2 separate regions of the Homo sapiens genome follow, and region 1 is linked to region 2. A link means that fine-mapping ties the variant in region 2 to the expression of a gene that starts in the linked region. Tissue or cell type: blood mononuclear cells. Region 2 holds a variant in brackets; the other region holds the start of a gene. All regions are shown on one strand. Distances are between the middles of the regions.

Region 1 (4,248 bases), 920 kb before region 2:
TTTCTTTTCTTTTACAGATTAAAAAAAAGTCCTTTATACCCTTATACTGAATATTGCAACACTTTGGTATTTTCATTTTAACTCTATTGTAAATGGAGAAATTATTAACCTGAAGTAAAGTGATTGAAGTAACCCTGAATAAAAGTTATTCAAAAGCTATTTCAGTGACACAATAGCAATGGATATATACAGCAAATTGACTCTGATACAATGCCAATGATCACATCTTTTCACTCTGAATTAGTGATCATGGATATTTTTAAAAATATGTGTTTGGTGCAAACTTTGCAAATACACATAAAAATACTGGATTTTCTAATCCCTGAAAGAAACTCTCTTCTTTCACCTCTCAGTCGTGTAAGAGTTAACTCTGTTTCCTACAAGGATGCAATCTGTAAGTTAGGTCTGGAAGGCAGCAAAGGCAACCTGGACTTGAAGTTAACACTTCTGTTGTCAAGGGTTACTGATTGGGGGAAGGGAAGGGGCTGTAAAGGGAAAGAGTTACGGAAATGAAGAGGGATTGTAGCACACACTACATAAATTCAAATGCTTTACATGTATTTGGAATAAGATCTCGAGTCTGTTGTATTTTTGCATTGTGTTTTCATTTATTTAGTTTACACATAGGTAGTGAATTTATAGGTTGGTTGATGTTAACCTTATCCAGAGTGGCCCTTTCCAACAATGTTCATTCAGTTGTACATTACATATATGTAATAATTTTGTAATTAAATTGGAATTTATCACAATTATTTACATCAAAGACAATAAAATTATGTTACTTCCTAAATTATAATATCAGTAAATATCGTATCTAGGATTTTGTGGAAAGTCTATGTCATTTTAGTTTAAATAAGGATTTCTCTTTTCCTCCACAAAATTAAAGGTCAAAGAAAACAGCATGTTTAAGACTTCAAATTAATATATATTAAGATTCAGCATTTAATATTCTAATTCTTAAAATAACTGGCTTTACCGATGATGAACTAAAGTGATTTTGCACACTATTACAATATTTCAAATTGCTAGTCACCACAGGTCGGCCTCACTTTAAATCTCCTTGTTATGCCAATTTGCATTACTAATGAACTTGCTAAGAGAGAAACTGTAAAAAGATAATGTAGCAATTAATAGTAAATGCTTGACATACTGTGACATTATAATACCTTTATGTTGATTTATATCTTTATGTCAATATTTACAAGGAAAATATTTTTGAATTTCTAATTTTGCGAAGTAAAAATGATGCTGACGCCATTGTCATTGATGGAATTTTTTCTGTAGCATTTGACTAATATAACCCGTGTTTTATAATTGGTAGACTCATATTTTAGCTTCTACTATCTACTACCCATGTAAGGTATTTTATTTGTAGTAGCTATGAATTGTAAATACAATTGGGTGTTGTGTGTACCTACGTGAAGTGCAGAAGTATTTGATTATATAAAATTTCCTGGATTTATATGAGAATAATGCATAATAGAGAGCAAAAGAGGGTTTTCCTGCCAAAAGTGTCTGTGTGAATTTTCCTTCGAAAATGTTCTTTTAAAATCCTTTGTATGATCAAAGCCACTCCACACAGACAATTAAAAGCAGCTATGGAATGATAGATCACATGACAGGAGTTAAATGTAAGGGTTTTTTTTTTTTTTTTTCCTCCCCCCTCGGTTAAACATCGCAGCAGGCATTACAATACCAGAGGTAACGAATCAATTAAATCCATTTTCCCCTCGGCGTCTCCAAAGCTGCGTGCCTAGTGTTGCTGTGTAGTTTAGACCGGAGCAGTAGGACCCAGGGGCCTCCGCAGCCACCAATAGAAGCGCACACTTGGACCTATTTGTATGCAATGCCTTCTGCTCTGCGCATTAATAGTAATACAGATAACGGGTTTGAAAGAATTCTCTACTGAAGAAGGATTGAATTTTTCCAGGGTGCTGATACAGAGAAGAAACCCGACTTCACTCTCTCCCTATTTCCCCACTCTTAGGTTTAAAAGTCTGTCACCTTTCGCTTGGTTTAAACTCGGAAAGGTCTCAGTGCACAGCAAAGTTGCAGGGCTGCGTCTGCACTACGGAGCCTCTAGATTGCTGAAAACAGTCTTATGGAAGGGTAAGTCTCGGAAATGGTTGCAAGGGAAGTGACAGCTGGCTTTTGATTTGTAAAAGGGGACACGCTGGGTTTTACACTAGTGGTTGTTGGAGTGCAGAATGGTTGCCGAGAGGACTCTGCAGTTTATCCAGAAATTGTGGCTGATGCGCCAGGGTGTTTTGGGGTAGAATCAAAAACCTTCAGGCTAAATCGGAAATTGCAGCCTTGCGATCGGGAGGGATTCAACAAGTTTTCCTGCAGGGATGCGATGTTTGTTTCTTCCTTGCCAGTTGTGCAGAGTGTCCGTTCCAGGTAGGCTGCGGCTGCTTAACAAAGAAGTTTTGGAATTTGTTTGTTGTGTGTGTGGCTGGGCTAACCCTTGTTGGAGTAGGTTTCGTGCCGCTTTTGGCTTCTTGGGGGCACACAGCGGAATTTGCTCTAGGGATGCGGCGAGCATCAGCGGTGTAGTGGGCTGGGGCCGGGCAACTTTGCAGCCTAATCTCAGTGCCGCTGACCGCACCGTTGTTCGTGATGTGAGCTGACTGAGGCATAGACACGGGCAGGCTGCAGGGAGCTTCCAAACTTTGAAAGCATTCTCCAGGAATGGATGCGCGTGGGGGCTTTGAAAATAAGCGTTACTAGGTGGATTTTGGTAAACTCTTGGCGGTATGTAGGCAGTGGGGACTTTTGACACTTGCATTTCCAACCTGCAGGATTTTGCTTGAAAACATGGTGCTGATGTGAAGACGAGAGCTTAAAGCTAAGCCAGCGGGGACTTTGAGGGAGGAAATGAGGGAGGGAAGGAGGAAGAATGAGAGAAGACAGATGAATGAAAAAGGTGCGTCCCATCTTTCACACACAAAAACCACACGAGTGGGACGAACCAGGAAGCGCTCCAGTTGGTGGCGTTTAGCTGGAAAACGTATTGCAGGGAGGTCCAGGAGCCTCTGCATTATTGATGAAACGCCGTGCCCTTCTGGGGCCCCTTCTTGCTCCTTCTCCCTGCCCCATCTTGCCAGCCCCGCTTCCATGAGCCTTCGGTTCCAGCGTTGGCGCGGGTGCGGCTGCGCGCGCGGCTGGGTCCCACAGCTCTGAGAACACAATGGGGAGAAGCAGGCGAGCCCTGCGGGCGGCCGATGCGGAAAACTCGGCGTGGCAACCCCACTGCTGCAGCCTGGGCTGCCGCTCCACCCGGGGCAGCGGCGCTGCAGAGACGGCTTCTGCCCAGTTGCCACGCGCCCTGAGGTCTCGGAGGACCGCGTGGAGGGCGCTCACACCTGGCCGCTAAAATCCTGGGATACCCTTCTAGGAGTCACTGTGTCCCACGCAGATGGGTGGGGTGGGGGAGACGGAATGCTAAGACATCCCACTCCTGCCTCGAGTCGGAGCTCCCACTACTCAAATATCCTTAGTGTGCACCCCAAGCATCTAGAGGACCTGCGCCCCCAAGAAAAAAGGACACGAAGGGGGAAAGAAGGGAAATGTTGATGAGGCTGCAAGAGGGGAAGGAAAACAAGCAATTTAGGGCAATTATGGTCAATGGTCAGGCTTTTCTGGGCTCTTTTAAGTGGATTGATTTAGAGGAGCTTTGAAATGCTGTCCCTGGCCTGTCTGCGGCACTAAAGGGGGCAGATTTCCAGACGCAGGAACTCACTGGAGGCTCCTTCTATAGATGAAGGGAGGAAAGGGCAGGGCAGGAGGCTCATTTCACAGGGTAGTTTAACCCTGACCTCAGCACCTCCCACCCTTTCACGCCCCGCCAAGGAGTGCCCCGACCTTGTAAACTCCTCTGTGTCATCTGCCCTGTGTAAGTGATTTTCATCAAGCTGTGTGTTACAGAGGCCTGTTAAGAGATGGTTGTCTGTTTCCAAGTAGTGGTGGGAGGTTGTTTAATTTGGAGGTTGCTTGTCAACCCGGGCTGAGCGCACAGAGGAAGGAGCGTAGATGCAGGACCCTATAGAATGGGCCACTTGGGGTTGTCAGTTACTTGAAGGCTACACATCAAAGGAAATATACTGATTGAGCACCTGGGGGAAGACAATGCCATTTCATTTTTTCCTCGCTTTCCATGTGCCTCCTTTACTGTGGTTGTTTGGGAACTAGGATATAATAATTACAAAAAAAAGTTGAAAATCCACTGATTTATTTGGAAGCCTCATA
Region 2 (4,248 bases):
ACCATAGCTACAAAAGGAAAATGATATGATGTGATTTTATATATATATATAAAACTTATTTTTAAATGACACAAAGACAACATTCTGTGATATTTATTTTCAACTTTTCTTAGTTGTTATTGTTATAATAACTCCAGACTATCAAAAAGAGACTAACTGTTGCTTTGTGCGCTCCCAAAGGGGTGATAAGTAAAATCACTTTCACTCAGCCAGACATGTGAAAGTGCTGTCCTAAAAGGTCCTATAAAAATTTGACCATTTTTTCATATGTAGTTATAACATGATATAATGAAATGAGAGATAAATTGGGGTCCAAAATACCGAGGTTTCTGCCAAAAGCTCTCTAATAAACATGTGTTTATGAGAACATTTGCTATGTTTCCCTACAAGTAAGTGAAGGGAGTTGGTTAAGATCCCTTAAACTTTTATAATTTCAAAGCATTGCTCCACGGAATTGCCCACCCATCATGCCCACTAGAAGATCTAAAACACACCTCAAGCTTACTGTGTCCAAAACAAATATTTAAAGACTACTCCACTCACGGAATTCCCCAGATCAGTAAATAGAAATTCCATCTTGTATTTGCTCAACTTCAATCCCATGATGTCACCCTTGACTCTTCTCTTTCCTTTCATGCCCCCCATCCAATCCATCAGAACATTCTGCCATCTCTACTTTAAACATATGTCCAGCCTCTCATCCTGATTTTCCACCACCATTACTATGGTAGACCGAGCCACCATCATCTTTACCTGAAAATTAGTGCGATAACCACTTAAGTTAGCTCCTGGCTGGCTTTCTCTGCCCAGCCCCCACACCCTCTTTCTTCTCAAGGCAGCTAGAGTGATGCTTCTACAATGTAGGTCAGGTCATGTGCTACTTTAAACTTGGAGATTAGACAGACTTTAAGATAAAGTCTCACTTTATGTCAAAGCCAAGATCTGTGGAAGGATTACAAACCTGATAATGATCGCTGTCCTTCTTCACCCAACCTAATCCTTTCTGACCTCATTTTTCCCACAGTGGCTCACTTCTCTCTAGACTTGCAGGACACCTTCTGCGTGGACCATTCTATCCCCAGATGCCCACTTGGCCCCTCCCTTCTCTAAGGTCTGTGCTGTACAAGAGTTGCTAAGACAATTCCCTGACCTCCTATATAACAGCAACCTGCACCTCATTGTATACTTTCTTACCCCTTTACTGTGCTTTAATTTTTCTACTTAGTACTTATCACCATGACAGCAGAGACGCCTTTGTTCACTACCTTATCCTCAGAATCTAGAACAAATTTAGTTGAATGAATGATTGACTGAATGAAAATATTAGGTTGGTGCAACAGTAATTGTGGTTTTGCCTTTAAAAGTAATGCAATTACTGTTGCGCCAATTTAATATTTCTTAGGGAAGTTGTGATGTAGCTTTTTTAAAATTTCTACTTTTAAAAGTAGATAAATAAGTTAAATAAATAAACATCTATTTTGCCCTTTAAGATAGCTAATAGGCCAGTTTGAACTAACATATTTCCTTGGTTGTTGAGAAACTATAAAAACAGAATATTTCCTGTGTTCTCAGTGTTACTGCAGTTTGTTTTCAAAAAAGTAACAGTGTTCTTAGCATCAAAGCACACAGTTTGGTTTTATGTTACCTTTTGACAGGAAAAAATGGGAAAAAAAGTCAGAAGGATTATTAGTTACTTGATCAATTTTATAGCCTATTGTCATATTTCTCTTTTTCTAAATGCACTGTTGCTACACATACTAAAACCATTTTATGTATATGAAGTATCATACATTCCGTTATCTTAACTTTTCACTTTACCTGAAAGCCTGACTCATTGCAAATGAATGGTGAAGAATTTCTAGACCAAGATGAGCTGCTCTGGTTTATTTCCACCTTAACTTGCTGTGTGGCCTTGAAGAAGTTATGTGGCTTTAGCAAATTAGGGCCCTTATCTTTAAAATAATCGTAATAATAGGTATAATAATACCACTCTCTCACCTACCTAACTGAGTTGTTAAGGTTAATAAGATAATGGCTGTTTAGAATTTTTTGAAGTCCTTCGAAGGAAGGTGTTATTATTTGAAAAGGGAAGTCTTACATTTTTCTGATATTTATAATTATTTTGGAGAAGTGCTCCACCCAGATATTTTGGCATAGCTTCCCTTACAGGTTCCTGGAGGCATGTTTGCCTTCCTTAGACAACTATTTTGAGGTACAACTTCAGGTACTCTACATTCTGGCGGAACTAATCTCCACGAGCTACCAGCTTTGCACATGCGTTCTGCAGTATAGCTGTTAAAAAGTAACACACGGTGGCCTGACACATTTCTGGTCCCTATTATGTAAGATACACATTTGCCAAACTTCCATTTTCTATTACAGTAAGTTGAAACTTTAGAAGTACCTGTCCAAGGTAAACTTAGTTTCTTAAGAAGTTATATTCCATCCTCCATATGATTTCATTTAGTCAAGATAATGTCTCAGAAGTGGATATCTTTAAGAATCTAAGAGGATTTCCCCTTCCCTTGCCTTTAAAAAAAATCATTTCATTTTGCAGCCTGGAGCCTAGATTTGATTAAT[C/T]GATTTCCCTGTTCTATTTAAGGATTGTTTTTATTAATGCACTTTTCAAGCTGAGACACAGCATTATCGCCTTCTCCATCATTGTACTAAGTGTTGAGATCTGAGCAGGCCAGCTGTAGCAGCTGTGTTTCCCCTTGGATCTGAAAGCTAAAAACTTTCATCTCCTTTGCTGTCTCAGCTGCTAGTCTGAGGCTATGGCCTTCCCATAACTCAAACCAGTTTCAAAGCAACGTAAGTAACCTCTTTGGAATGCTTTTGGAAAACCACAGAAAGGTTCTTTAAAAGTACACCACTTATATACTTTAAATGAATGTTTCCATTTTAAGGTAATAACAGCATAATGTCAGGAGTCAACAGATGATATTTAACTACACTTGGACATAGTGTAGACATGTCTATATAGACCAATTATAAAAAAGAAAAGAAACACCAGAATCTTGTGTTGGTATCCTCAAAATGATCTGATAGTGGTGGAATGTCTGAATCAAATATTATATTTTCAAATATTCTATTTATAAAGTGATATTTTCAATAGGCTTAAATGCTTTTTTCTGATACAAAATAAAATGTGAAAAGATGCCATCGTGAAAAATAAAGATGATATTGATTATCTTTACTGGTGAGAAGGCTTGAACTCACAGGGAAATGTCTAAGAGTGGACTTTGGTTTACTTGGGGTTTGGGGAGGATTTGCATCCATTTTAATTGCAATTAAATTATCAGTAAAATAAAAACATGGCTGCTGATTTATAAGACTGTAAGTCATTTGAGTAAAATTTGACATTTACCTCCAAGAATACCTCTGGACAAGAAGAACAGCCTTTGTTTTTTATATTTGTCTTGGCTTCATGAAGGAAATTACCACTGGAACTTCACTTGTACTGACTATGTGGTGACTTAACTAAAACTCCATGTTGCAGTTTTGTTTGTAATTACAAAAAAGATTACACATTAGATTTTACATTTATATCTTTCTTACCATCTCCCTAGTGTTTAGTGGCGAGAAGCCTCATCCTAGGGCAATTGGCAGAGGAAAAAAAAAATCTTTGGGGCTAATTTCTATGTGTACTTGAAATGTTATATAAAAATAAACCAGGTTTCAATGTTTCAGAGTCTCCAAGGGCCACCTTTACAAACCAGCGAAGTAGGGAACACTACCAGAGTACAGGAAGAATAATTTATTAGTCTGAAGAATTCTGAACACATTGTTTTTAAAAATGATTTACTGCATGGATTTCAAAGCTTTTCTTCATAATCACGTGTATTACCTTATCTGAAAAGGCAGTTTATTGCACTTTTCCAGAGCAACTGCTTGTGCTACTGGGGGATTAAAACAGGTAGACATGCTACCACTTTCCCCTCCGGGGGTTCCCCAGACATGATGGGCATTAGGCTTAGCTTCTAGTGACCTATTCTTGAACCTGTGCCATTCAAAGACAGCATTTGCTTGTGTATTATTTAGAGGGGCCTTTTAAAAAATTCTGTATGCTTTATGAAAATATTTTCTATAATTTATTCAATTTCTTTCCAGTAAATATTTTTCTTTTCATTAGGAAATATATGTGTGTCTGTATAAACACACACGTAGATATCACACACTAAAGTGTATACATATAAAATACAAGAGAAATATACTGTAAGCTACAAATATGAGCCACATGTGTAATTT

Evidence for each region. PIP is the estimated chance that this variant, and not a neighbour inherited with it, causes the effect.
Region 1: ROBO1 starts here. The variant in region 2 is fine-mapped to the expression of ROBO1 in blood mononuclear cells (TOPMed, PIP 0.96).

What each region holds. Positions count from the first base shown.
Region 1 is chr3:79,765,613-79,769,860 of GRCh38, reverse strand. ROBO1 (roundabout guidance receptor 1) reads left to right here and starts at 1,863. Exons shown (of 31, transcript NM_002941.4): 1 at 1,863-2,109.
Region 2 is chr3:78,845,418-78,849,665 of GRCh38, reverse strand. The region is part of intron 4 of ROBO1 (roundabout guidance receptor 1); the gene reads left to right. Among named protein-coding and RNA genes, the nearest start is that of MIR3923, 660 kb to the left of the region's middle. RefSeq lists a silencer at 2,513-2,807. The variant C/T (reference allele first, on the strand shown) is at 2,581.